Linked DNA regions of Homo sapiens. The protein of the gene in region 4 interacts with the protein of the main gene of each other region in a biochemical or structural test. Each region holds a gene or a part of one and is shown on either strand. Other genes may lie near its edges.

The links.
Region 1: the proteins of APBA2 (region 4) and ARF3 form a complex in vitro, tested with the Homo sapiens proteins (one study listed by BioGRID).
Region 2: the proteins of APBA2 (region 4) and CLSTN1 interact in a biophysical measurement, tested with the Homo sapiens proteins (one study listed by IntAct).
Region 3: the proteins of APBA2 (region 4) and CACNA1B interact in a biophysical measurement, tested with the Homo sapiens proteins (one study listed by IntAct).

Annotation. Positions count from the first base shown.
Region 1 is NC_000012.12:48,954,484-48,961,886, forward strand, and holds the start of ARF3 (ADP-ribosylation factor 3), read right to left. Parts: upstream 3,005-7,403; 5' UTR 2,827-3,004; exon of another isoform or gene 1,615-2,826; intron 1,278-1,614; exon of another isoform or gene 1,212-1,277; intron 1-1,211.
Region 2 is NC_000001.11:9,813,952-9,820,972, reverse strand, and holds part of CLSTN1 (calsyntenin-1 isoform 1 precursor), read left to right. Parts: intron 1-7,021. UniProt on the Homo sapiens protein: Postsynaptic adhesion molecule that binds to presynaptic neurexins to mediate both excitatory and inhibitory synapse formation.
Region 3 is NC_000009.12:138,055,767-138,062,787, reverse strand, and holds part of CACNA1B (voltage-dependent N-type calcium channel subunit alpha-1B), read right to left. Parts: intron 5,057-7,021; coding exon 4,919-5,056; intron 4,740-4,918; coding exon 4,538-4,739; intron 4,220-4,537; coding exon 4,055-4,219; intron 3,710-4,054; coding exon 3,599-3,709; intron 3,135-3,598; coding exon 3,051-3,134; intron 1-3,050. UniProt on the Homo sapiens protein: Voltage-sensitive calcium channels (VSCC) mediate the entry of calcium ions into excitable cells and are also involved in a variety of calcium-dependent processes, including muscle contraction, hormone or neurotransmitter release, gene expression, cell motility, cell division and cell death.
Region 4 is NC_000015.10:28,881,070-28,888,990, forward strand, and holds the start of APBA2 (amyloid-beta A4 precursor protein-binding family A member 2), read left to right. Parts: upstream 1-4,904; 5' UTR 4,905-5,209; intron 5,210-7,921. UniProt on the Homo sapiens protein: Putative function in synaptic vesicle exocytosis by binding to STXBP1, an essential component of the synaptic vesicle exocytotic machinery. May modulate processing of the amyloid-beta precursor protein (APP) and hence formation of APP-beta.

The DNA.
Region 1 (7,403 bases), on a different chromosome or scaffold from region 4:
CCAGGTGCTTTACATTTATCTCATTTAATTCTACTGACAACCAAAAAAATAATAATTCTCTTGAAAACCATATGTCATTACCTTCTTTACAGATGAAGAAAATAAAGAGAGAAGACAAGCAATTTTACAAGAAACATGCAACTGGTAATTAGCAGAAGCAGGATTTGAATCTAATTTTGTCTGATTCCAAGATCCACTCTTAATTACTATACCATTCTGCCTCTAAATTTACCTCAACAAAAATGGTGAGGAGAGTTCAGGCATGGTGGTTCATGCCTGTAATCTCAGCACTTTGGGAGGCCAAGGTGGGAGGATATATTGGAGCCAGGAGTTTGAGACCAGCCCTAGCAACACAGTGAGATCTCTACAAAAAGTAAAAAAAAAAATTCGCTGGGCATGGTGGCACACGCATGTGGTCCCAGCTACTTGAGAAGCTGAAGTACAGGATGGCTTGAGGCCAGCTCGAGGCTGCAGTGAGTTATGATCACACCACTGCCCTCCAGCCTGGGTGGATAAAAATAAAGGTATATAGGGAAGCAGATTCTACAATTTCCTTCAGTTACATACTCAACTTTAACCAACCTGGTTTTAAAGAAGTTCCTCCTTCTAACCAATAAATCCCACCCTCTATCCTGAGTCCACTTCCTCTTATTATGACTCTAGTGTAAAAGAGTAGGGTGAACACACACTACAATATGACTCTTTGTGCACTTAGTATTTCACTCACTTCCACTCTTTCCAGTCTGCTCTCCTTTATACTTGCATTCAGTATAATAATAGCAGCTACCATTCACTGGTACCAATTCTGTACCTGACACCACACATATACATATATTGGTCCCTCCTCCAAACTCTCCAGGATCCCAATTCATATATAACACTTTGAAAGACTTAGGTCTGATGGAGAGACCCCTTTGCCCACAATGGGGAAGCAGGAAATCTGGGACTGCAGATAATGACTCTGTGTTCTAGTAATATTTTTCTTTTTGGGTCTTAAGTTTCCATTATCTATGCCTATTCTGTGCCTCTTAGGAAGGCAGAGACACAAAAACTTCTTAATTACAAAGGCTAAGGGTCTTTGTACCCTTGCTAAGCTATTTCCAGGCACTTCTGCTGACAGCCAAGCCATCTCTTGCCCTTTCCTTAAACTACAGTTAGAAAGCTTGTTGAGTTCTATCTATTTACATTCTAAATTCATCATGGGTACCTACTGTTTGCATGGGCATTGTGGAAGAGGAGACGAAATCCAGTTCCTGCAGTCGAAAAGCGTCTAGTCTCTTTGGAAAAGCAAGATAGACAACTATAAAAATTCTAACTATGCAAGGTAATAATTCTATGCTGGGAAACAGGACGCATGTGAATATGTGATACATGGGAGCCTTTCCTGGCTGAATCCAAGGTCAATCATTCATTCGGTGAAAAGCTGAACCTTAATGGATTAGTTTCTTTCTTAGAATGAACTTTTACAGACATGTTTTTCAAACTCAAGTCCAATGGGCTATGATAATCCACTGTCCCATAACACTGTCCCATGTCCCAAGTCACGGCAAGTGGAAACACCTACCCCAACAACAAGCCCAAGACAAAATAGCAGCAAAGACTGTTACTACCTACCTGATTGAGGACAGGGAAGGAGGTATGCAGCGACTAGATTCTGTCCTGTTGCACTGACCCAAGCAATCAGACTCTTGCAGCAGATCTCCTCCCAATAAAACTTTCATGCCATAGACCAGGGGTGACCCAATCCAACAACAGCAGAGACAGGTTTTAGGTTACATTTCTCCCTCACCGGGACGGCCTTACTATTTCTTCTCACTCCTGACCACATACCACAATCCTCCACCTCCACCACCACATTCCTCCTGGCCTGGAAAGATGGAGACCCGCCTTAATGCAATCAAGACGGGAATTCCCCCAAAATAACAGCTACCACTTTGCTAATCAAGTGGCCCGTTTTAACAGGGAACTCCACCTCCCCAACTCCCGCCCCTTCCCTCAAACGATTCGCGTAAGCAATGGCTCCATTTTCTGTTCCGGGAATCCTGGTACTTCCTAAAGAAAGAAAGCGGATTGGAAGACACAAACTGAGGGCCAGTGACAAGATGCTCCCTCCTCCTGTGAGACCGCCCCCGCTCCGCCTGGGGAGGAAGGCCCCACCTCTCTTCTCCCAGGAAGATCAGATCCCCCTCCTCCTTCTCCTGCCTCCTCTCCACCCTCTCCCCACTTGCTGCCCTCTTCCCAACCTGCGGTTCCCTAGACTCGAAAGCGCAACCTCTACCACAATAGCGCCCATGTGGTGCCCCAGCAGCCTGCCCTGTTGGCTAACCCCCAACCCCCCTACGCACCCCTGCCCTATGATGGGGGAGGGGGTGTAACCACAGCAAGGCTTCTCTCCCGTCTCCTATTGCTAAGGTGGGGGAGGGAGAGGGAGTAGAAGAAAGCAGCATTCCCTAGCCCTTTAACAGAAAAGATACAAACAGCCATCACCGCCCCCTCATCACCTCTCCTCGGACGGTTTTCCTCTCCCTCAACAGCACACCTCCTGCAGGCGACAACCTAACTGCAGCCCAGGTCGCCCCCTTGAGCGAGGCGGAGGACAAATCCGTGTGCGCCCCCCACCCCCACCCCAGCTCTGCGTCCTTCAAATGCGGGGGCAGGCGTGAAGCTGGCCCGACGCACCCTCTCTGAGCTCTCGGGTGGGAAGAATCCCACCGCCCCACGCCAAGCAGTGCCGGGCGGGGCCCGGGAGGCGCTCTATCTCCTCAGCCCTCACCCTGACCGAGCCTCTTCTCTACCGGGACCCGCCTTCCCTTCCCAGCCTCTCACCTGTTCCTGCTATCAGCTGCGCCGCTGCGGCCGCCGCCTCTGCCCCGCAGGTTCCGCTCCGCTCCCTCTGGCTCCCCAAGCCGACTTCAGCCCGGCTGCTGCCCTGGCCCACTCCCCGGCTCCCTCCTTCCTTCCCTCCACCTAGCACCGGAAGCCGCGACGGCGACTGGAGCTGTGCGGCGTACCCCCACCCCCAGCCCGGGATACTTCCCACCTCCCCGATCGCGCGATAGCTGCGCGGTAGCTAGCGGCAGTTCTCGCGAGACCCATCACCATGGCAGCGGCTGCAGCACCGGCGGCCGGGCGCTGGAGCTGGAGTCAGGGCGGGGGCAGGTGTGGGGGCTGTGGGCGGCGGAGGCGGGAGCCGTGAATGGGGATGAGACAGTGAGGACTGAGGTGACAATCCCAAGCTCCAGGGTTGTGCCTGGAATTTAAGGACTGAGGCGGCAAGTTGGCTGCGTAGGAGACGGGCTGGGCTGCGGGGCCCAGGGGCTCCTTGGGCAAAGCCAGCATCGGGATATGGGTGAACAGTCGTTGCTGTGGCATGCCTTACCCAGCCAGACTTCATCTTTATTTCTTAATCTGGGCTAGCTGCCATCCCCTGAAAGCCCTCACCGCACCATTGTTGTTGCTCACTATTCCTGAGACTAGATTACTGTGGGGTCTGAATCAAGAGATCCTTTCCCATAAGGAAGAGGAAGGAGAGTGATGAACTTAAGAGGCTAAAGGAAAACAGCTGGACTCTGAGCCAGTTAAGTTGGAACTTGAAAGACGGAGAGTGGAAACCTAATATTCAGAAGTGTGGTTTGAGGAAGTGTGCCTAGATGAGTAGGGATTTTAGTATCCCAAGGAAAGGTGAAGGACTTTGCACCCATATTTCTTGCTTCCTACCCACTCCTACTTCCCTCACACTCCGTTTTGCACCTGGTCTAGACATGCAGAACTGCCTTGAAACAAAAATAGCTGTGATAGAAGGGCACTAGTAATGCTAAGAACAGAAGGTTCCTTTTTTTTTTTTTTTTTTTGAGACAAGAGTCTCACTCTGTCGCCCAGGCTGGAGTGCAATGGCACCATCTTGGCTCACTGCAACCTCTGCCTCCCGGGTTCAAGCGATTCTCCTGCCTCAGCCTCCTGAGTAGCTGGGATTACAGGCGTGAGCCACCGCGCCCGGCCAATAGAAGGTTCTCTAAGTGCCCTCTCTCCTCATTTACAGCAGTATAAGGGAATGAACACATGGCTCTTCCCTAAGGCTTGAGCCCAAATTGTTGCTCTTATGAATTTATTGCCTTGGTTGATTTTGTTTGTTTGTTTCCTTGCTTCCAAGAAGAACTAAGCTGGGGCCAGGCCCTGTGTTCACACTTGTAATCCCAGCACTTTGGCAGGCTGAAGTGGGCAGATCACTTAAGGTCAGGAGTTTGAGACCATCCTGGCCAATATGGTGAAACCCTGTCTCTACCAGAAAATACAAAAATTAGCCGGGCATGGTGGCACATACCTGTAATCCCAGCTACTTGAACTGAGGCCAGAGAATCGCTTGAACCTGGGAGGCGGAAGTTGCAGTGAGCCAAGATCGTACCACTGCACTCCAGCCTGGGCGACAGAGTAAGACTTTGTCTCAAAGAAAAAAAAAAAAAAAGCTGGTAGGTGCCATATATGTCGATCTCCTTGTCCTCATCAATCCCTGGTGTATGCACTTACAGTCCCTTAACCCAGTCTGTTCTCTCTCTTATGTTAACCTGATAACATGACCCTAGAATGTCAAGCTAAGGGGACCTTAATTTAAGATGGTAAGGGATGAGATGGATGACAAGGAACCTGTTTATAACAAGGAATTATATCTGTCCTGGGCACTGCTATTAAGGGCTGCTGCCCTGCTAATCTCTGTGGGTTGTTTTTGTTTTTGTGTGTGTGTTTGTTTGTTTGTTTGTTTGTTTGTTTTTGAGATGGAGTCTCGCTCTGTCACCCAGGCTGGAGTGCAGTGGTGCAATCTCAGCTCACTGCAACCTCCGCCTCCCAGGTTCAAGCGATTCTCCTGCCTCAGCCTCGCGAGTAGCTGGGACTACAGGTGTGTGCCACCATGCCCGGCCAATTTTTTGTTTTTTTAGTAGAGACAGGGTTTCACTGTGTTAGCCAGGATGATCTCAATCTCCTGACCTCGTGATCTGCCTGCCTCAGCCTCCCAAAGTGCTGGGATTACAGGCGTGAGCCACATCTCTGTGTTTTTTTAAGATACGGGGTCTCACTATGTTGCCCAGGCTGGAGTGCAGTGGCTATTCACAGGAGCGATCATAGCACACTTCAGTCTTGAATTCCTGGGTTCAAGTGATCCTCCTGTCTCAGCCTCATGAATAGCTGGGATTATAGACATGTGCCACTGTGCTGGGTAGTTCTGTCGGGTGTGTTTTTGTTGGTGGTTTTGTTTGTTTGTTTCTTGCTTTTTTTTTTTTTTCTGTTTTTGAAACTGGATCTTGGCCGGGAGCGGTGGCTCAAGCCTGTAATCCTAGCACTTTGGGAGGCCGAGGCAGGCGGATCACGAGTCACGAGGTCAGGAGATCGAGAACATCCTGGCTAACACGGTGAAACCCCGTCTCTACTAAAAATACAAAAAATTAGGCAGGCGTGGTGGCAGGCGCCTATAGTCCCAACTACTCCTGAGGCTGAGTCAGGAGAATGGCGTGAACCCGGGAGTTGGAGCTTGCAGTGAGCCGAGATCGCGCCACTGCACTCCAGCCGGGGCGATAGAGCAAGACTCCGTCTCAAAAAAAAAAAAAAGAAGAAAGAAAAAAAAAGAAACTGGGTCTTGCTGTGTTGCTGAGGCTGGAGTGTAGTGGCGCAATCGGCTCACTGCAGCCTCAACCTCCTGGGCTCAAGTGATCCTTACCACCTCAGCCTCCCAAGTAGCTGGGACTACAGGTGCACGCCACCATGCCTGGCTAATTTTTTTTTTTTTTTTTGAGACAGTTTCGCTCTTGTTGCCCAGGCTGGAGTGCAATGGCACAATCTCCGCTCACTGCAACCTCTGCCTCCTGTGTTCGGGTGACTCTCCTGTCTTAGCCTCCCAAGTAGCTGGGATTATAGGCATGTGCCACCACGCCCGGCTAATTTTTATATTTTTAGTAGAGACAGGGTTTCACTGTGTTGGTCAGGCTGGTCTTGAACTCCTGACCTCAGGTGATCCACCTGCCTCAGCCTCCCAAAGTGCTGGGATTACAGGCGTGAGCCACCATGCCCAGTCACCCAGCTAATTTTTATGCTATTTGTAGAGACAGGGTTTTGCCATGTTGCCCAGGCCAAACTCTTGAGCTCAAGCAGTCCTCCCATCTAGGCGTCCCAAAGTGTTGGGATTACAGGCATGAGCCACCGTGCCTAGCCCAGCTCTGTGTTTTTAAGGACAAAAGACACCTCCAGTATTTTGTTGTTGTTGTTCATGTCAAATGGATAGTGTGCCAATGTAACAAGGTTTGAGGGTGGCACATCTCACATGTGTGTAAGCACCCAGTCATTATGCTTATGAACTACAAAAGGATCTTCCTCCAGTATTATTACTCCTAGAGTGGGTTTTTTGATATTTCCATGTGATTACTCTTTCATTTATTTCTCTAGAAATTTCTAGTAACACTCCACCAGGTTATCCCACCATGCTGTCCACCAAAACTATGATTTATAAAACCTCCCTAGTGCCCTTACCACGTGCACATGCCTGTGGAACTCAGACAAGGAGGTGGAACCTGTTGATATTCCTGCCCAGTGCTTCAGATCTTCTCAAGGTTTTATCCCCAGTGCAATAGAAAGATGGAAATGGTGACAGTCTAATGTAGTAAGCAGCAGGTACCATGGTATGTCAGTCAGGACTGATTAATGGGACTAGAGAATCTCCCAGCGCTTCTGTCCTTCACCTGTCTGGAGTCTGAAGAAGAAAACGTCTGTTGCAGCATCAGAGTGCGCTGCCCATGGAGCAAACAGGAGCAGAGATAGGAGGAGTGCTGCCCAGCTGGCAATTAGCTGGCCACTGCCCCTCCCTAACTTCCCAGCCACTTGGTAAAGGCCAGCAGGAGTAGAACTCATCTGGAGCTGAAGAGGGACAAGAGGCCCGTCTTACAGTTCATCAGCCTTTCTCCCTCCCTCTGGCTGCCATTGGAGCCTAGTAAAAGCTGAAATTGTAGCCACCAGCTCTGTGGGTTGCATACTCCAACCCTGTCGCTGACCCCAGTGCATGTGCTAGGAGCAGGGATAGGGAGTGGCGAAGGGGTGTGTTGGCCTTGCTGACAAAATCCATTTGGAATTTGTCAAGGTTGTGGTTTGGGGCTTAAGTTTGCCACACAGTGTGTCTGATGAAGGAAGAGGGAACGCTAGAAAGGAAAGAGGGACCCAAAGTACAGAGGAAGGAAACAGGAAAAAGCTGAAATAATCATGCTGTGACTCTGTTAGAGATTCTCCTTCCTCGTCCTGAGTGTGAGAAGTTCTGATTATAAATATTCTTTATCATTATTCTCTTATATCCTATGCCCATTCTAAGTGCATCCCCTCTTCCTTCCACATACACTAGGTTCAGTAAGTGCCTGAAGTAAGGATGGGAT
Region 2 (7,021 bases), on a different chromosome or scaffold from region 4:
CACTTAATACATAAAATTCACTGTTACTTTTCCATTTGCACATAGGCTTAGTGAGACCTCCCCTCACCATCCTATTTGAAATAATTTCTCTTCCTGAACCCCTAAATCCTGTTTCCCTGCAACACTTTTTCTTTTTGCATAGCACTTAGCCCATTCTAACATGCCTTGTTGTTTACTTATTGAATTGTTTATCGTCTGTTTCCCCTCAGTAGAACATATGCCCCAAGATGGAAGGGTATCTGCTTTGCATATGTTTCCCGTCACCAGCACACCAGAGGCATGCCAGTATTGTGTGATTGAATGAATGAATGGGTGGATGGATAACAGCATTTCAGTTTAGACAGCGTAGTAGCTTTGCATCCTAATTTTCACTTTACAGATAAATGCTATATACTGAAAAAAATTACATAGTGTAAAGCAAACTTAAGTTTTTTTTTTGTTTGTTTTTGTTTTTGTGACAGAGTCTCATTCTGTCACCCAGGCTGGAGTGCAATGGCGCGATCTTGTCTCACTGCAACCTCCGCCTCCCGGGTTCAAGAGATTCTTCTGCCTCAGCCTCACCAGTAGCTGGGACTACAGGCATATGCCATCACACTGGGCTCATTTTTGTATTTTTAGTAGAGACAGGGTTTCACCATGTTGGCCAGGCTGGTCTGAACTTCTGACCTCAAGTGATCCGCCTGCCTCTGCCTCCCACAGTGCTGAGATTACAGGTGTGAGCCACTGCACCCGGCCCAAACTTAAATTCTGCAGTGTCGATATGGGAATTCATTAGTGGGTAAATTTTCAAGGATCATGGGGCCAGCCTCGGTGGCTCACCCCTGTAATTCCAGCACTTTGGGAGAACTAGGCAGGCAGATTGTTTGAGCCCAGGAGTTTGAGACTAGCCTGGGCAACATGGTGAAACCTTGTCACTACAAAAATACCAAAAAAAAAAAAAAAGTTCAAGGATCAATTCTGTTGGTTGCAGTATTGGGGATATTAGATCATGAAACTCTGTCTCAGCCTTTGAAGGCTGTAGCTCTGTGGCTACCCCTGTTAGTCCCTTTAAAAATACTATAATTTTCAGCTTTTTTGGGAAGATGGTTTCTTAATTTGTTACCTCGTTTTTTCAGAAGTAACGATGTGGAAAAAAGTCGTTCGAATATAGACCTCAGTATTACCCATAGTCTAACATTTTTAATACTGAAAGTAAATAACATTTATTTCTCAAAGGAGACCTATAACTGCTGAAGAAATAATAAAATACGAACAATTTTGAATATATTCCAATTTTAGAGCATTCACTCGGTTAACTGGAACCTTCAGTTAGCTGGAATTCGTCCTTTGGCTGGATATTTCTTTTGGGAGAAAAAGCATGAAACCAAGCAGTTTTATAGGAATTATTTTTCAAAAGGAAGGTTTAGGAGGTCATAACATACATTATCTGTGCCAGTATTTGATATTCAAGCCAAAAACGCAAATAATATTTCAGTTTTAGTTATGAAGAATATGACCAAAAAATGAAATTTTTGTGGGATATAAAATATTACATTGAAAATAGAAAATGCTGTAATTTCGTAACACTAGCTGCAGGACTTAGTGAAGCTTATTAAACCAAGTCTAAATGTTTAAAATGAGGAAGCTGAGATAGGTTAAAATTTTAGAACAAAGGAAAAAAAGTACTGAGTTATTTTTATTATTGCTTTCTGAGACAGGAAAGTATGTTTTTTAATTTTTTTGGGTAGTTTTCATTTATAAGAGTTGAAACAAAATAGAGATCTGATTATCCTAAAAAACCGCCAAGAGTCTATTTCTTATGTATTCTGGTTGAGGGCTTAGATCATTAAAACTTGTTTTTTTAGTGGGTCTTAATTTGGTGTGAAGACTTGCTTGAAGGGGCCGGGTGCGGTGGCTCACACCTGTAATCCCAGCATTTTGGGAGGCCAATGTGGGTGGATCACGAGGTCAGGAGATCAAGACCATCCTGGCTAACACGGTGAAACCCCATCTGTCTCTACTAAAAAAAAATACAAAAAATTAGCCAGGCGTGGTGGCAGGTGCCTGTAGTCCCAGCTATTCGGGAGGCTGAGGCAGGAGAATGGCGTGAACCCGGGAGGTGGAGCTTGCAGTGAGCCGAGATCGCGCCACTGCACTCCAGCCTGGGCGACAGAGTGAGACTCCGTCTCAAAAAAAAAAAAAAAAAAAAAAAAAAAGAGTTGCTTGAAGAAATATGTCTTTATAAGTGAAATTTAAAATGTTGATTTGCTACAAAATACGGATTTTAGTAGTGTTTCAGGACTACAGATTCAAGATTGGTGGAAATTATTTATGCAATGTCATGTTCGTGCATTAAAAAACAACCAAGGCCTGGCGCGGTGGCTCATGCCTGTAATCCCAGCACTTTGGGAGGCCAAGGTGGGTGGATCATGAGGTCAAGAGATGGAGACCATCCTGGCCAACATGATGAAACCCTGTCTCTACTAAAAATACAAAAATTAGCTGGGCATGGTGGCATGCATCTGTAGTCCCAGCTACTTGGGAGGCTGAGGCAAGAGAATTGCTTGAACTCGGGAGGCGGAGGTTGTAGTGAGCCGAGATCACACCGCCGCACTCCAGCCTGGCGACAGAGTGAGACTCAGTCTCAGGAAAAAACAAAAACAAAAACAAAAAAAAACCCAAACGGCCAGGCATGGTAGCTGACACCTGTAATCCCAGTGCTTTGGGAGGCCAAGATGGGTGAACTGCTTGAGTCCAGGAGTTCGAGACCAGCCTGTGCAACATGGTGAAACCCCATCTCTACTAAAAATACAAAACAATTAGCTGGGCATGGTGGCATATGCCTGTAGTCCCAGCTACTCAGGAGGCTGAGGCTGGAGAACTGATTGAGCCTGGCAGGTTGAGGCTGCAGTGAGCCAAGGTCACACCACTTGCATTCCAGCCTGAGCGACAGAGCAAGACTCTGTCTCTAAAAAAAAAAAAAAAAAAAAGCCAAACTAACAGACCCTCAAAAGTGACATTTTGAGGCTATGCAAAGGCCATATATAGGAACCCTTAAATGGCGACAGCCTCCCCACTGTGTCAGCCTGACATACAATACCCGTCTTTTCCCTAAGAGCTGCCACCACCCGGGAACTAGAATGCTGCTTTCAGTTGTCCCTGATTTGATAGGTTCTTTCTCTCCTATGTTTTAGGTATATTTTTGCTCATTTTTTGATTTAGCTTTAGGATATTATTATTAGATTAAAAATTTTCACAAGATCTGTTACTAAAGTTTTTATTTTTAAAGATTCTTGGCAGAGATTCACGTACTTCAAAGTAGCAGAGTTTAAAGCAGCTTAAATGCCTATAAAACATCTGAAAGTTGGCTGGGTGCAGTGGCTCACAACTGTAATCCCAGCACTTTGGGAGGCCGAGGCAGGCGGATCACCTTAGGTCAGGAGTTCGGGACCAGCCTGACCAACATGGAGAAACCCCATCTCTACTAAAAAATATAAAATTAGCCGGGTGTGGTGGCGCATGCCTGTAATCCCAGCTACTCGGGAGGCTGAGGCAGGAGAATTGCTTGAACCCAGGAGGTGGAGGTTGCGGTGAGCCGAGATGGTGCCATTGCACTCCAGCCTGGGCAACAAGAGCAAAACTCCGTCTCAAAAAAAGAAAAAAATCTGAAAGCTTCCTTCCCATTCCGGAACCCCAATAAGAAGTATGTGATAGCATATCAAAAGAAGAGTCATGTTTTTTCTTTTTTACTTCTTTGGTCAGACATGAATCATTATCTTAAAAAGAATTAATAGAAGTGGCGTCTCACTGTGTTGCTCAGGCTGGTCTCGAACTCCTGGACTCAATCAGTCCTCCCACCTCATCCTCTCAAAGAGCCGAGATTATAGGTATGAGCTACCGCACCTGGCCGAAGAATCATCTTTCAGCCATCTGTTTCGTTCTGTCTGATTCTCCCATGACAAGAACTTCTGTTGAGTCTGCTACTTTTCAAGCCTACCTTGATCTGTACTTTCTCTGAGTCATTGTGTAGGACAAAGGAGGACCACCGGCTGGGTGCGGTGGCTCACGTCTGTAATCCTAGCACTTCGGGAGGCCGAGGTGGGCGGATCATCTGAGGTTGGGAGAAAGAGACCAGCCTGACCAATGTGGAGAAACCCCATCTCTACTAAAAAATACAAAATTAGCTGGGCGTGGTGGCACATGCCTGTAATCCCAGCTACTTGGGAGGCTGAGGCAGGAGAATTGCTTGAACCCAGGGGGCGGAGGTTGCAGTGAGTCGAGATCACACCATTGCACTCCAGCCTGGGCAACAAGAGCAAAACTCCATCTCAAAAAAAAAGACCACTTTTGTCATGCCACTGCACTCCAGCCTGGGTGACAGAGCAAGACTTTGTCTCAAACAAACAAACAAAAAAACCCACCTTTTTCTGCATCCACTCCTTTTTTTTTTTTTTTTTAAAGCAGCTTTATTGAGGTATAGTTCACATACCATAAAATTCAACCTTTTAAGGCATACAATTCAGTGATTTTAGTATATTTACAAAGTTGCACAACCATCACCACTATCTAATTTCAGAACACTTTCATCACTCCCAAAAGAAATCCCATATCTGTTAGCAATCATTCTCCATCTCCCTCCTCCTCTCCTCCTCCCTTGGCAACCCCTAGTCTATTTTCTGTCTATGGATTTGCTTATTTTGGACATTTCACATCAATGGAATCATACGTGGCCTTTTGTGACTAGCTTCTTTTGCTTAATATGATGTCTTCAAGGTTCATCCATGTTGTAGCATGTATCAGGACTTCGTTTCTTTTCATAGGTAAATAATATATCCTTGTAGGGATATAACACATTCTGTTTATCCATTTATTCACTGATGGACATTTGGGTTATTTCCACTTTGTAGCTAATTTTGGAAAATATTACTATGAACATTTTTGTACAGGAATTTGTGTGGACATATGTTTTCATTTCTCTTGGGTGTATACCCAAGTGGAATTGTTGGGTCTTAGGGTAACTCTTAGATTTAACTTTTTAAATTAAAAAAATTTTTTTTTGAGGTAGAGTCTCACTCTGTCACCCAGGCTGGAGTGCAGTGATGTTATCTTGGCTCACTGCAGCCTCCGCCTCCTGGGTTCAAGAGATTCTCCTGCCTCAGCCTCCCGAGTAGCTGGGATTACAGGTGCCTGCCACCATGCCCGGCTGATTTTTGTATTTTTAGTAGAGACGGGGTTTCACCATGTTGGCCAGGCTGGTCTCCAACTCCTGACCTCAAGTGATCCAGCTGCTTTGGCCTTCCAAAGTGCCGGGATTACAGGCGTGAGCACTATGCCCGGCCTGTGTTTTTAACATTTTGAGGAACTACCAGTTGGTTGTACAAAGTGGCTGCACCATCCTGTATCCACTTGACCTCCATAGTCACTCACAGGAGCATTTTTCGAATCAAATACACATTTCACAGTTTTCTAGTTTGTTAGAATTTTAAGTTGAATTTTTCCTAGTCTAGGTGCAAACCGGCATTTCATCCAACCAATTCCTTCCTTTGCCATTGTCTCTCATATAATTTCTACTCTGGACTTTAGACTTTGAGTTGAAAGGAACTTTGAAAGTTCTTTCCTCTATACTTTAAATAGCCTTCCCTGTAAAACAGACATTTCCTCATATGTTCTTGTGTGTTGATCATTCAGCCTCTGTTTGAACTCTGCTGCTGTGGGGCTCTTGGTAGCTCACAGAGCAACCCTTTTCTTAAAAACATTGAGCCTTTGGTCAGCTTTCCTGAGGACTAAATTTTATCACGCCTTTGTATTTTTGCAGGCATCCAAGCCTACAGTCTGTTGTTTTTACCACCTCACACATTAAGAGAGACTGAGAGCACTGAGGCCTAGGCCTTGATTTCTGTAGATTTCTTAGGAAATCTGAGCCTAGCACAGGGCTACACATGCAGTGTTTGGGGGACAGCCACCCAGACACATGCAGAGTCAATATCCTGGTTCCAGGAGCAGGGCTTAACTTAATGAAAGGGACTGGAAAAAACACGAGAATTTTCAAACTACAACTAGTTTAGAAAAGTGACATTTTTCTTTTTTTTTTTTTGAGACAGGATCTTGCTCTGTTGCCCAGGCTGGAGTGCAGTGGCACAATCACAGCTCACTGCAGCCTCAACCTCCCTTGGCTTAAACTATCCTTCCACCTCAGCCTCCTGAGTAGGTGTGCACACCGCCATGCCTGGCTAATTTTAAAATTTTTGTAGAGACGGGATCTTCCTATGTTGCCCAGGCTGGTCTCGAACTTTTGGGCTCAAGCATTCTGCCCTTTTTGGCCCTCCAAAGTGCTGCGATTATAGGCGTGAGCCACCATGTCCAGCTGACATTTCTTCATTCATTACATTTTTGTTATGCTAGTTGGCTAAAAATGTGCTTTGTTAAAAAGTAAATTATTTTTTCTAGTCCTTTGATTTTATTTAACTATTCCTCAATTACCCAATCTTCAAACATATAAAATGCTTAGAAATATGTCTTTAGATTCAAAGTGAATTTTAAAACTCAGTAAAAATGAATATCTTCTTTGTTTACATACTTAAAGTATAGCAAAGAAATTTTTATTCAAGCTGGAGTGCAGTGGCACGATCTCAGCTCACTGCAATCTCCGTCCTCCCAAGGTTCAAGCGATCTGCCCATTTCAGCCCCCTGAATAGCTGGAACTACAGACACACACCACCATGCCTGGCTTTTTTTTTTTTTTTTTTGGTAGAGATGGGGTTTTACCATATTGCCCAGATTGGTCTCAAACTCCTGGACTCAAGCAATCTCCCTGCCTCAGCCTCCCAAAGTGCTAGGATTACAAGCATGAGCCACCATGCTCAGCCTAACATTTTTCTTTCTTTTTTTTTTTGAGACAGTGTCTCGCTCTGTCACCCAGGCTGGTGTGCAATGGCGTGATCTTGGCTCACTGCAAGCTCCTTCTCCCAGGTTCATGCCATTCTCCTGCCTCAGCCTCCTGAGTAGCTGGAACTACAGGTGCCTGCCACTGCGCCCGGCTAAT
Region 3 (7,021 bases), on a different chromosome or scaffold from region 4:
TGCCACTTGGGCCACAAAACCCAGCAACCCCCAGGGTCCTTGATGTGTATGTGGTAGGTAAGGATACTGGGTAAAGTCCTGGGAAAGCCTCCACAGAGAAGTCAGTGCAGACACCCAGCATTTGGGAGCAGGCCATGCCATCTACAGAACGGAAGCATAATGAGAGGGGCCAACCTACTTCCTGGCCCTGGTGGCAGCTGTGTGTGTCACCAAGAGACATCGCTGTCTATGACACCAAAGCATCTCCCCATAGTGATGTGCTGTCAGACCCACCACAGGCCCAGTGAACAATGGAAGGGGTACCTCTACGACCGAACCCAAGCATGTCTAGAGGACACAGCACACAACATGTGGCCCAATCCCCCATGACACGCACCTCTGTTGACCAATGACGTCCTCACCTCACTCCCGCCATCACTTCATGGGGATTCACTACAACTTAGGGGGAAACGCAGACCTGATTTGTGGATGGGTTGCTTGGTATACTGGTGCAGGCCTCACTACAGCCTCACATAGGAACAGCCTGAAAGACAGAGGTGGAGCAGAGCCCTGGGCAGGGTATCTGGTCAGCTCTGTGTGGGGGGGAAAACAAGTTGCCTGTGCTGAGGATAACAGGGTCCTAGGCAGGCACAAACGGCTGGTCAGGATCCTGGAGGGAACAAGGTCTAGGTGAGAGGCAGACAGATGGGCCTTGGGAACAGGCATGGGGTACAGGCCTTTGTTTTGCAAACCAATGCTCACCATGGGGCACTAAAAACCAAGCACTGGGATAAGTCGACCAACAGATATTGGCTAGCCTCTGTCCTCACCAGCCCCAGTGTCCACACAGCAGACCTCTGGATAGGGTGACCATCGTGGCCAAGAGCCTCTCAGCAGCATGATCCAGTCATGACCACTGACGATTATCTACCGGGAATGAACAGACAGCAACACTGGGCTTCCATCTGGTGCCATGCCTTGGGGCTGTCAACCAGCCACCTAGTGGTAAGCTGATTATATCAGAACACCCTCTCCTGGAAAGGGCAGTGATTTGTCTCATCTGGGATCCACCCACATCCCAGGTGTGGGTTTGCCTTTCCTTGTGCAGTACCGTGCCGGCACTAACATCTCAGAGATTTACCAACACAGGATTCCATATAACATCAGCTTGGAGCACACGCAGGGGATGCATGTGAGCCAGGTGACCGCGGGGTCCACTGGATCATCTAACGCAACACCACTTAGGAGACGCTGCCCTGACCTTAAAGGCAGAGATAAAATGCCGGCTTGGTGATACACTTCATGGGGTTGGGGTGCCATATTTCAAGATGAACCAACGGCCAATCGATGGTACTGGGTGCCCAATCAGTAAAATGTATGGATGGAGGAAATGGTGAAAGAAGAAGGGGCCTGTCTCACCATCGCTCCAGAAACCCAGTATGAACTCTGCGCTCATCTTCCCCAATTTTAGGTCTGGCAAATCTAGAGGCCCTGGTTCAAACAGGTGGAGAAGGCTTCTACCACACAACACCAAAGCCATGGTGGCCACCTGGTCACTTGGGGCTGCTCGTGCCAGAAGGCCAGCAGGCATCACAAAGAGTTTCCATGCCAGCCAGATCATCTGACCCTCATTACTGTGAAGGGCAGAGCTGCCACTGCATAATTCTGGGAATCAGGGGCTTCACTGGGCCTTTCTCCATGCTCCTATGAACACGCTCCTGTGCGCAGTCTTCACTGCGACTGGATTACCACGGCAGCCAGGGTTGGAAAAAGAACGGCAACAAGTAGGGACTTGGGATGCGCAGGGCTGAGGGTCTGGGTCATCCCACCAGGCCAGCAACCAGTGCAGCAGAAGGCTGGCCACAGGACAGGGGCTCTAGAAAGGGTGGTGGGGACGGGATGATGAACATCAGCTCAGGGGCTCTAGAAAGGGTGGGGGGAACGGGATGATGAACACCAGCTCTGCTTGGACCAGCACAGCAGACGGAGCTCCGCTCTGTCTCCCAGAGACCATGACCAGCACCATCCTAAAGAATGAGCACAGTGAACCCAATGTGAAGTGTGGGCAGAACAGGAAGGAGCCTGGTGCTCCAGCAGGTTCTCCTCTGATGGTGTCAGACGTCCCTTCAGCCCTAACAGCTTGGGTGCAGCACTCGTGGCACACTCAGGGAGCTGGAAGCATCTGAGAATTGACACCCCAGGTGCAGCCCTCAGCCTAATGCCGTGCGGAGGGTGCAGAGGCAAACACGTTGCAGCTCCCTTTCCAGCAGGGATAGCTCTGAGGTGCGACCTACGCTGCTGCCAGAAGTCCCTTGGGAGATGACCCACACTGACCCACCAGGACTTGGCTTGGGACGCAGGATTTCTGGTCCTTCTCTTCCCACCCATTTCCCCATGCCCCTCTGCTGGTTTCTACTGGGAACATAACTTAAGAAATAAATTTCACATGAGTGCTCGTGTCTGCGTCTGCTTCTCGAGAATTCAACCTAAGACCAAACAAATGAGATTTTCTGCCATTGATTTCCAGTGTAATGTGTTGTACTCAAAGAATGTTGCTTTATGATTCAGATGCTTTGAAATTTGTTGAGACAAGTTTATATCCCAGCACTGGTCAATTTTAAGACATAATCCACATATGTTTGGTAAGAATGAGTATTTCCAGATATATATAGAGAGAGATAGAGAGACGGTGGGGGGCAATATTTTGAAATATAAATCCTTACTGGTTTCAGTTTATATATTTTTGATACCACCTTGTTAGATACATATTATACAGATACAAATTTAAGATTCACATCTTCTTGATTAGTTGTTACCATGGAGCTCCAGGTAACTCTCAGGCCAGCAGCCCAAAAGATCTTTGAGAACCACTTTCTTATTCAAGAAAGAACATCTGCTGAGGTAACACCCAATCCCTAAACTCCACCCCTGGAGCGAAGCCTCCACATGTCCAGGGGGTTCTGCGGAACCCAGGAAGAGGCTAACACAGGGCCTGGAGATGCACTGAGGGGAGCAGGCTCTAGAAGGAAACCACCTGGGGACCCTGAAGGAGGGACAGAAATGCTACTTACCGCAATCTCTGTTACTAAAATATCAGTAATACTTCCCAACACAGTGACAAAGTCAAAGACATTCCAGGCATCTCTGAAATAGTTCTAGAGAAAAAGAAGAGCAGTTAGTGCCAGCGGCTGATGAGGGCTCTGTTGGCAAAGAGGTATATATAGGTGGTGGCCCTGATTAAGAAAGCGGTGAGGGTGATAGACCCTGAGCACAGGGCAGACAGGCCACCCCAGGGGGCACAGCACAAGGCCAGAGGTAAGCAGATGTCAAAGCCAGGGACACAGATACCTCTGGGCCTGGGCAGAGGCAGGACTAAGAGCCATGTGTCCAAAGAGGAAGAACCCAGCCCTGCCTCCCTCCCAGGACCTAGGCTGGGGGCAGAGCTTATGTAGCCAAGAGTCTCAGAACAGCCCCTTCCCCAGGGCCCCTGTAGCATTACATATACTCTGGGTACTCGGAGAATTCCCAGCTCCAAATTGTGAGCCCCCAAAGGTCGCCCTACAGATGGGGAACCAGAATATAGGTTGTCAAAAGGCAAAGCAGGGACCAAAGCACGTACCAGCACCCCAAAGGCGATGATCTTCAGCACGCATTCCATGGAGAACATGGATGTGAACACGATGTTCAGGCATTTCAGCATCAGCTCGTACTCATAGGGTGCATCATAGAACTGCCCGGGGAATAGGCACTGTTGGCCATGGGTTTGGCAGCCCCAAGACACCCCATCTGGGACCACTATGACCAAGCAAAGCGGGCAGACAGAACTCGATGCCTGCCTAGGCCTGGGACACCCCTTCCTGCTCTCCCCGAGTCCTCCCAGAACCTCCCCACTGTCCCAGCCCACAGACAACAAAGGGAAACAGGATTCCACAGGCATCCCATGCTGGCCAGGATGCAAGGCCACTACTGCTTTGGCTCATGCAGGGAGGAAGAAGGCTGACTCTCCACTCAGCCTCAGGGTTAGATCCCAATCCCTAGCAGCGCCAGCTGCCCCTCTGCGCTGAGCCCCACACACCTTCATCATCAGCACCACAGTGTTGAGGGCTATCATGGCCATGATGAAGTATTCAAAGGGCGGGGAGACCACAAATGTCCACGTCTTATACTGGAACGACTGCCGGTTTTGGGGCATGTACCGTGTCAGGGGTTTGGCGCTGATGGCGAAGTCAATGCAAGCCCTCTGTAAGGGGAGAAAGGAGCACAGAGACTCAGAAGCAGAAAACCTACCCGACGGCATCTACTGCACCCAGCCCTGTCTCGCCAGGCCTCACAGGGAGCCCTGACAACAGAAGACAAATTGAAGCAGCCCAGACCTTCTCCAAGCAGGCCTCAACCAGCCAAATCCGGTCCCTCTGCAGGAGAAAGGAGGACCTGCCCCTGTGTTGGCAGACGGTGGCAGCCAAAGCTGACCCAGCTGTGAGTGATTTGTGTGCAGGAGGGAAGCCTGATGGCGCTGCCCACGCTGTCCACTGCAAGACTCCACAGAGCGTCCACCTACCTCGTTCTTCTCCAGGCTGCATTCAGACATCACCTTGTCCCCCTGCTCCTGGAAGGTGATGATGATCAAAGCCACAAAGATGTTGACGAAGAAGAAGGGAAAGACCACAAAGTAGACCACGTAGAAGATGGACAGCTCCATGCGGTACCCAGGGCTTGGACCCTGCTCCTCATAGGTGGCATCCACGGAGTGTTTCAGCACCCTGGGCAAAGAGGAGAGCAAGTGTCAGGGGAACCCCCAAAGGAGACAGCCCTAAGAACTCAAGACCTGCACCACAAGGGTGGGTCTGCTTCCATGCCTGAGCCCAGGGATAGAGGGAGGAAGGGAGGCCGAGCTCAGGGGCTGCCTGCCCCAGCTACGGAGAGCAGGATGAGCACTCACATGGGCCAGCCTTCTCCCGTGGACACTGTGAACAGCGTCAGCAGAGCCCAGAGCACATTGTCGTAGTGAAAGTCGTATTTCTTCCACTGCCTGGGCTGAGCTTCCACTTCCTCCTTCTCATAATCCAAATACTGACCCCTAGGAATGAGAACATGGGAGGTTAGAGGGCAAAGACAAAAGATCCAAATAAACCCACCTATCAAGAGTGTTGAAACCATTCCGTGGGGAAAGAATGGCCTCTCCAACAGACTGTGCTGGGAAAACTGGATGTCCACATGCAGAAGAATGAATGTGACCCTACTTTACTCCATAGACAAAAATTAACTCATGATGGATTCCAGACCTAAGTGTAAGGAGCTAAAACTATAAAACACTTAGAGGAAAACGGGGGCAAAACTTCGTGACCTCGAATCTGGGAATGGAGCCTTAGATGTGACACCAAAATCATGAGCAACAGAATAAAAAATACAGATAAATCAGGCCGCATCAAATCGGACACTTCTGTGCTCAGAGGACGCCGAGAACGTAAAGAGACAAATCCACAGAATGGGAAAAATACTTATTTCCTAATCCTCTGTCTGATAAGGGAGTTGTATTTAGAATATGTAAATAACTATTCTAATAAATAAAAAAGGCCGGGCGCGGTGGCTCACGCCTGTAATCCCAGCACTTTGGGAGGCCGAGGCGGGCGGATCACGAGGTCAGGAGATGGAGACCATCCTGGCTAACATGGTGAACCCCCGTCTCTACTAAAAATACAAAAATAATTAGCCGGGCGTGGTGGCGGGCGCCTATAGTCCCAGCTACTCGGGAGGCTGAGGCAGGAGAATGGCGTGAACCCGGGAGGTGGAGCCTGCAGTGAGCCGAGATCGCGCCACTGCACTCCAGCCTGGGCAACAGAGCGAGACTCCGTCTCAAAAAAAAAAAAAAAAAAAACCCAAATAAAAAATGGGTAAAGGATCTGAATAGACACTCCTCCAAAGAAGATATACAAATGGCTATTAAGCACATGAAACGCTGCTCAACACCACTCATCATCAGGGAAAGGCAAATAAAAACCACCACGAGACACCACTTCATGCCCATGATGATGGCTGTAGTTTAAAAAATACCAAAACTAAAAAGATGGAAAACCACAAGTGTTGGCAAGGATATGGGGAATTCAGAACCCTCATGCATTGCTGGTGGGAATATACAATGCTTTAGCCACTTTGGAAACAGTCTGGCATTTCCTCAAACAGTTAAACACAGAGTTACCCAATCACTCATTAATTCCACTTTTAGGTACACACCCATGAGAAGCAAAAACAGACCCACACAAAAATGTGGACATAAATGTATACAACAGCATCATTTATAACAGCCACAAGGTAGAAACAACCCAATGTTCATCAGCAAATGAAAGAATAAGGAAAATGTGGCACAGCACAGAACACATATTCAGCCGTAACAAGGAACAAGGCTCTGACACAAGCCACTGCGTGGACAAACCTGAAAACATCACACGAAAGAAGCTACTCACAAAAGACCACATATTGTATCATTCAATTTACAAAAAGTGTCCAGAACAGAGAGGTTTACAGAGATTAAAAACAGATTCATAGTTGGCTAGGGGTGGGACAGGGATGTAGGGGATGATAGTTAAACGGTGCGGGTTTTTCTTTTTTTTTGAGGTGCTGAAAATGTGTTCTAAAATTGACTGTGGCGATGCTTGCATGTACCTGTAAATAGACTAAAAGCCACTTAATTGCACACTGTAAGTGGATTGTTATGAACAAGCAGTATAATGTGTTAGTTACATCTCAATAAAGCTGTTTTTTTGTTTCTGTTTTTGTTTTTTTTTTGAGACAGAGTCTTACACTGTCGCCCGGGCTGGAGTGCAGTGGCACAATCTTGGCTCACTGCAACCTCCGCCTTCCAGGTTCAAGCGATTCGCCTGCCTCAGCCTCCTGAGCAGCTGGGATTACAGGTGCTGGCCACCATACCCAGCTAATTTTTTGTAGTTTTAGTAGAGACAGGGTTTCACTATTTTGACCAGGCTGGTCTCCAACTCCTGACCTCATGATCCACCCACCTCAGCCTCCCAAAGTGCTGGGATTACAG
Region 4 (7,921 bases):
CCATGCTGTCTCTGTGTCTTCCAAAATAAAGCAGTGGGTCTTGGAAAAACCTATTAGAGTGTGATCTGGTTAGTGATTTTTCCACTGACTTAAATCCTGAAGGCAAGAAAATCAGACTCCCACAGGGGTGTTTAGCATTTCCTTCTTACACACCCTGGACCTTGGGGATTTTCTAGGCCAACTTCCTCACCGAAACCCAGGAGGAAACTGTACCGTGGAGGCCCCAGCTGATTTACTTGAGTCCCCCCGCCTGGCTGGTGCCTTAGCTGGGACCAGAATGTAGGCCTCTTGACTCTTGGTTCAGGCCACTTTAGACTCCACAAGGATAAAATGAGCAGTCAGCAGGAGGAGCCTAAGAGCTTGATATTCCCAGGCCCAACAAGGCCTGTGCCAAGCAGTAACTTTATGAGAAGGAAGTTATTCTGCCATCCCCACAGAGAGAGGACATGTCTTTATTAATTAAGCACATTTTTACAGTCAGCCAAAGAGTGAAGGAAAAATTAGTATTCTGTCATTTGGAAGTTTTGTAAAGGAACATCTTGTTCAGCTTATAAAACAATGCATTAATCTTCTGTCCTATATAGGAAAGTCATATGTTATTTTTAAAAAATAAGTTAGGGTGTGAGGAGGTGACAAGTTTCCAACTCCACTTGGTAACACCTTGTAGGAAATCTGGCCTGGTCCAGGAGCCCCTCTAGGCTGAATGGTATCGGCATTAAGCATGCAATTCATGTATGCTGTCACTAAGTGGTGGTAGGGATCACAGCCATGTGGTCCAAACATATAGTCACAGACCTTCCTTGTTCTTCTTTTTCCCCCTAAAACAATAGACAAAAGATTTCAGAGATCTTTTACCCTCCAAAGGGTTAAAAACCAGGGTTAAGAATGATAATTACATTTTTTTTTCAGAGATAGATAATATCATATACTTCAAAAATTAAAAATTGGCCAGGTGCGGTGGCTCATGCCTGTAATCCCAGAACTTTGGGAGGCCGAGGCAGGCAGATCACGAGGTCAGGAGATCGAGACCATCCTGGCTAACACAGTGAAACCCCGTCTCTACTAAAAAATACAAAAAATTAGCCGGGCATGGTGGCGGGCGTCTGTAGTCCCAGCTACTCTGGAGGCTGAGGCAGGAGAATGGCGTGAACCCAGGAGGCGGAGCTTGCAGTGAGCCAAGACAGAGCTACTGCACTCCAGCCTGGGTGACAGAGCGAGACTCTGTCTCAAAAAAAAAAAAAAAAAAGAAAAAGTAAAGGAAAAGGAAAATCACTGAAAAGTTTTCCTGTCACCCCCGCCCCAGACACTACTTTCTTTCCCAAGGGTGACAACATTTTTCAGTTTACTGTGATCCTTCCAGAAAGGCTTTATTATTGTATATGAGCATCTATAGGCTCACCCTTTTTTCCTTTTTGCTTTTTTTACTCACATGGTGGCATACTACACACATCTTCTGCCCTTTGTTCTTTCACTTAACAATTATCTTGGAGAACTTCCCATGTTAATTTATCATGCGTTTCTTCCTTCTTTTATGGCTGCATTCTATTTCAGTGTTGGGAAGTGCCCTCATGCATTGAACAGTGCCCTTTTCATGGGTATCAAGATTGTCTGCAGTCACTTACTACAGAAACATAGCACCATGAATGATTCTACTCATGCCTGTTTTGCACGTGTGATATACAAGTCAAAAAATTCCTAGAAGTGAATTCTTAGGTCAAAGAGCTTGTGCATTTGTAATTTTGATAGACATCATCTGATTTTCCTACACAGAAGTTGTACTGATTTACACTCCCATGGGCAGTGTGGGTATCTGCCAGTTTCCTCTTGCTTTCTGGAATATATTGTATTACTGAACTCCTGGGTCTCTGATCAGTGAACACAATGACATCTCAGCATAGTTTTAATTTGCATTTCTTTTTCTTTTTTTGAGATGGAGTCTCACTCTGTTGCCCAGGCTCAAGTGCAGTGGTGCGATCTCAGCTCACTGCAACCTTTGCCTCCCAGGTTCAAGCGATTCTCCTGCCTCAGCCTCCCAAGTAGCTGGGATTACCGGTGCTCACCACCATGCCCAACTAATTTTTGTATTTCTAGTAGAGACGGGGTTTCACCGTGTTGGCCAGGCTTGTCTCAAACTCCTGACCTCAAGTGATCCACCTGCCTCGGCCTCCCAAAGTGTTGGGATTACAGGTGTGAGCCACCATGCCTGGCTTAATTTGCATTTCTTATTATGAATAAGGGAGGACAGCTTTTCAGATGTTTAAAAGTCATTTGTATTTCCTTCCCTGTGAATTGTCTGCTTCTTACCCTTTACCTGTTTCTTTGTCTTTTCTGTTAAGAGACAGTCTCATACTGCTGCCCAGGCTTAGTGCATTGGGATGATCATAGTTCACTGCAGCCTGGAACTCCTGGGCTTAAGTGATCCTCCTGTCTCAGCCTCCTGAGTAGCTGGGATTACAGGTGTGAGCCAAGGTGGGGGCCTGGTGATGATCCGTGATGCCTTCTTTTGATTTTTTTTTTCTTATCAATTTCTAGATGCTATCTATGTGTTAGGGAAATTAGCTGCTTGTGATATGAATTGCAAATAATTTTTTCCCCTTTGTTGTAGACTTTGCTTATGGTAGTGATTGCCATGCCAGAGTTTCTTTGAAGTCAAACTTAGCTGTTTTTTTGTTACCACTTTTTGATTTTGTTGCATACTTAGAAAGGCCTTTCCCATTCCAAGATACTTTTTTTTTTTAAATTTAAAATTTTAAGTTCCCAGATACAAGTACAGAACGTGTAGGTTTGTTACATGGGTATATGTGTGCCATGGTGGTCTGCTGCACCTATCAACCTGTCATCTAGGTTTTAAGCCTCACATGCACTAACTGTTTGTCCTAATGATTCTTCAAAAATTCTCTGAATACTGGCAGTTGGCTCAAGCTCACCAGATTTAGGAGTCCTGAGTGAGGCTGGGGGCAGGCCTGTACCTTTATTTTTAAATTTATTTAATTTATTTCATTTTTTAAAATGATAGGGTCTTGTTCTGTCACCAAGGCTGGAGTGCAGTGGCACGATCACAACTCACTGCAGTCTTGAACTCCTGGGCTCAAGCGAGCCTCCTGCTTCAGCTTCCCAAAGTATTGGGATTATAGGTGGGAGCCACTGTTCTTGGCCCTAGGCCTATACCTTTCATCTTGTGGACTGAGGACTTCAGCCACTATCACTCCCGGGTGCTGCGATGGGGTTTAATTTCCAGTGACTGGCCCAGAGCCTGCTCATGGGAAGATCTCAAGGGAGGCTGTTGAAGGAACAGCATGCAACTTACCGGCCCACACACGTTCACACAGATGGGGGTGGGGGTTTGAGGAGGTGGGGGGTGTTGTGTGGATCAGCTTCAGGCACAGGTGTCTGGTTTCCTATGGGATGTGACCACATAACAGTAAGGCAAGAAGATGACTGCATTTATCTTCTCAGAATCACTTCTTCTTAATTGTTGCTTCCCACTATTGGCATTGGTGAAAGGCTGGGCCACAGGAGGCTGGATGAACTTTGTGTTAGCCAGGTAAGCAGAATGTCTATGCAGGTGGAAAGTAGACAGTGAAGGTGTGCTCATCTGAGTACGGAGGGGCATAGGTCAGGAACCTCGTTGGCCTGCCCTGGCCTTTGCCCCTTTGTTTGGCCCTGTGGCTACAAAGCTCCCCTACCAGGAGCAGCCCCCACTGGCGGCTCTGGCCCTGGAAACCTGTGAATGTTTGGTGGGGGCAGGGTGTGGAGAGGCCAAGTCCACAGTGTATCTAACCCTAGTCCATCTCAGGATTCGGCTTCCCCCAGCCCCTTCTCCTTAGGGTCTCAGCTCGGGCCCTCAGGGCAGCAGGAAGATGCGCTGTCCTCACTCCCAAGTCCCCCTGCCCTTCTGTGCCTTCTGACCTGGGCAGAACTTCCCATGCCACAGCTTCGCCTAATCCAGCCACAGGAGAAAAGAAAACGAGGGCAAATCACCACGATTTGGGGGGAGGGAGGCCCCTGAGCCCCCGCTCTGCCCAGACAAGGCATCCTGTGCATCTCCCATGGCTCATCACATCTGCCTGGGACTCAGTGAAAGGGCCAGAGGGCCAAAGGTGACACCGGAGTCTCCAGCACGACCTTCGAGGGCCTCCAGGGCATTTCTCGCGCTGTAGGGGCGGAAGACTGGCTCCCCTGGGGATGCATGTGAGTGTCTAGGAGTGTACGCTCCCCAGGGCCCCGCGGAGGTCAGGGTTCTCTCCATTTAGGACAGCAAGGAGAGAAAGCCCTGGAGTGAGGCCCTGGGGCTGGGGGCTAAAGCAGCACAGAGTATCAGAAACGGGGTGCTGGGATGGTTACCGGGGACCGCCAGGGAAGACTTGGGAGTCCAGCATGCGCCTAGGGGAGCTGCGGTGGGGAGGCAGCAGGGGGCCTCCTCTGCCGGATGGGGCCTTCGGAGGCCGCGATCCCCGAGAGTTCTTCGCTCGAGGGTTCTTCGCTCTAGGGTCCCCCATTACAGCTGCGCGGGGCCGAGCAAGCAGGGCGCGGCGGCCGGGGCAAGGTGCGGAGCCTCGCGTTCACCGGCTCTACCTGCGGAGCCTCGCGTTCACTGGCTCTACCTGCGGGACCAGACCCCTGCAGCTCCCCAGCCAGCACGGCCGGGGCACGCCCGGGAATCTGTGTGCTCCCCAGGGCCCGGGGCGTTCGGGGCGCCGCGCCTTCCAGCGCCTGGGTCCCAGCCCCGATCCCGGAGACCGGCCCGGGGGGACCCGGGGTCCCGAGTGCACCCTCCTGCCCTGCAGACTGTCCCAGCGCCGGGGCCAGGGGGCGCAGGACCTCGCGCACGCCCGGCACGGACGCATCTTTGTCTTCCCTCTCTTCACGGCGCGCGATCTAGCCGGGAATCGTTTTCCGGCCCCAGTGTGCCCGGCGCGGGTGAGGCGGAAGCGGCCGGGGCGGGGGCGCAGGCCCGGCAGCCGCAGGCCGGTGCGGGATGCGCCCCGCAGCCGCGCCGCGTGCGCCCGGCAGAGGCGGCCCTGCGTGCCGTACGCTGCGTCCGGGGCGCGCCCGCCGCTATTCGGGAAGCTATTCAGCTTCCCGGGCTCATTAGCAGTCGCGGTGTGCGGCTCGGCGCGGGCTCACAAAGAGCTCGGCCTCGCGGACTGAGCCGGCGGCAGCGGGGCGGGGACGGCGGCGTACCCGGGCAGCCCAGCGCCCTGGCCAGGTAAGCTGGGGAACCTGGGCTGCCTGACTTGCCGGCGGCGGCAGCCTGGGGCCGCCCGGGGCGCCGCGAGGACCCGGACGCGTGGGGGGCGGCGCGGAGGTTGCGGCCCGAGCGCTCCAGAGCGCTGCCCTCCCGACTCAGCGTGGCTGCGGGGCGGCCGCCGCTGGGATATGGGGGTACAGCCCGGCGGCCCCACTCCTCTCTGACCGGCCGCTTCCCCCTCCCACGACGGGTGGGCGGGCGGGGCGGGGACCAGGCGGCGGCTCTCGCATCCCGCGCGGGGGGCACCGCGGCAAGGGGCCACCCGGCGCGGACAAGAGGCGCTGTGTGGCGGGGCTGTCCGCTCGACTCCTGCCGGGCTGGCCGGGCTGCTTGGCACCGGCATCAAGTCCCCGTGCCGGGCGGCAACTACTGAGTTTGGGGTCGCCTCTGGGTTCGCTGCCCCCAGAGAACCCAAGCCCAGATCTTCGCCCCCTTCCCTTTCCCTTTATAATAAGGCCCAGAGGGGAAAACTTATCAATTCAAAACCCCACACCCCGTTGCTCCTGGGCTGCAGGTGCCCGGTTGGGGGCACGGCGCGGACCTGCCCCTCGGCCTGGCCCCTTCCCCATGGCAGGCACTGCCTGGCAAGGCTGCTGGCGGGAGATCTGGCTGCAGATGGTGAAGGAGAACATCGAGGCCCCCGGTCCCCAAGCAGGGCGCCATGGGCCGGGCAGCGGGCCTCGGTGTGCCCAGGCGGGGAGGGGGCGAACTTCCTTTCTCCGACGCCTGCCGAGGACCGCCGTGGAGAGCAGAGCCTTAGAGGGGCCTGCTAGTCTTAACTTCGTATTTACTGGCAGAAGGAAGGCTTAATTTTTCAGATCTATTCAGATACGACCTGGCAGGCACCAGACATAAATCTGTGGTTGAGTGCAGTCAGCTCCTAAATGGGCATGTGGAGGGTGAGGCACCCCGAACTCGGCATCTTGCGTCTGGCACTGTTTTTGGGCTAAACTGCCTCTGGCCTCTTCAACCTCCTGTGCCTCTTTCTGTTTTTGTTTTTGTTTTATTTTTCTGTTTTCCTTCCTCTTTGAGAAAGGACAGTGATTTTAGAAATAATGACCCGAGAGCTTTGCAGGTTGAAGTGGGACGAGTTTTCCTAAGGTGCAGGTTGGCAGGTGCCAGGAGCCTGCAGGTGGCTTTTTCTCAGGCCTCTGGGTCAGGGTCCCTCCAATGAGGTGAGGCAGGGGTTTCTCCTGTGTGTCGCCACTACGCAGGGGACAGGATCTGGGTTTCCCAGTCCAGGGCGTCCAGGATGCCCTGCCCTCTGTGCTGATTCCTGGGTGACCGTGGGGGCTGCTTCCCCCTGCAGCCTGGGCTGGAGAGGGTCTCCTGAGCTTAGGATCTGCCAGGCAGGAGGGCCAGGGTGACACGGACCTGGAACGCTGGGGCTCCAGGCAATGTCCAGGGCGTGAGTGGGTAAAGCTGGAGCTTGTGGCTGTGTGCCGGCAGCCTTCCCTCGGTGGGCTCTAGCAGCACTGTCAGGGGGGCCCTTGGAGTGGGCTCCATGGCTGGGCTGGGACTGGGTGATGGCATTAGCGATGGGGCACCGAGTCTTCCCTCTTATTTATTAGGAAGTGTGGTCTGTGCCCCTCCCTACTGCCGGTCTCCTGGGCTCCTGGGATGGGAGGAGCTGCAGGCTGAGTCCCACGGGGTGTGAGTGTGTGTGAGCAGGAGAGTTGGGTGGGCGCTGGAAGGAGGTGAAACTGGTGACCGTCAGCTCCTCATTCTCTTCCACCTTGCATGTTTTCTCTGACACCCTAGACTCAAGTTGTGGCCTGCTAGTTAACTTGTTTACAAAACCTTTTTAAGTAGTTCTAACCTCTTTTTTTCAACAAAATGTTAGTTTTACAGGCATAATTGGTGGGGATGGATTGTGAAATGGAGGTGCATAAATACCTAGTTTGCCAACTGAGCTAAGAAATACTGGATAAAAATAAGAGATAATTGTAAAAGACACTGATCACACCCCTGGAAGCTGAGAGGGGTGATAAGACACCTTGATTTTTCCTAGACAAAACTGAGGAAGTCAGAGGAAAAACAGTTGATGGTGAGGTTGGCATCAGGCTGGGCTTTGTTTGGATTGGGCGGCGGTGGCTGTGGTGAGGGCTGTTGGAGTGGGGAGAGTGGGGGTTGAGCCTGGCTTCAGAGACCCCCTCGAGGCCTCAGCTCCTCTCCGGCGCTCCTGGCTGTCCTCTGCCACGCATACCTGCCCCGGTGACTCAACAGGTGTGGGCCTCAGGTGACACCATGGTCCGAAGTCGTGGAGAAACCTTTACTGTCCAGGGGAGGAGAGGACTGGCGGTCGGTGGGGATCGAGACCCAGCACACATCACTGGGTGGCTCGAATGTCTTCGGCAGAGATCACATGCCCTGCCTTGCAGCCTGGTCCTTAGAGAATGGGGAGAGTGGAGAGAGCTCTGGGCCTGGGTGGCGGGCGGTCCTGGCTGTATCACTCACAGGCTGCGTGCCCTCCCCATGCAGTCTCAGTTCCTCACCCTTGCCAGGTGGCTGTGAGGACTGGGAACGTGGAGGCACAGGTAGGATGTAAGGTAGCCACTGACCACCAGGCAGGCCTCCCCGATGTAGGTCAAGTTTGAGATGGTTGCTCACCAGGAGGCAGCCTGTGTGCCCGGTGGGGGCTGGGGGTGAAGTTTGAGAGGGTTGCTCACC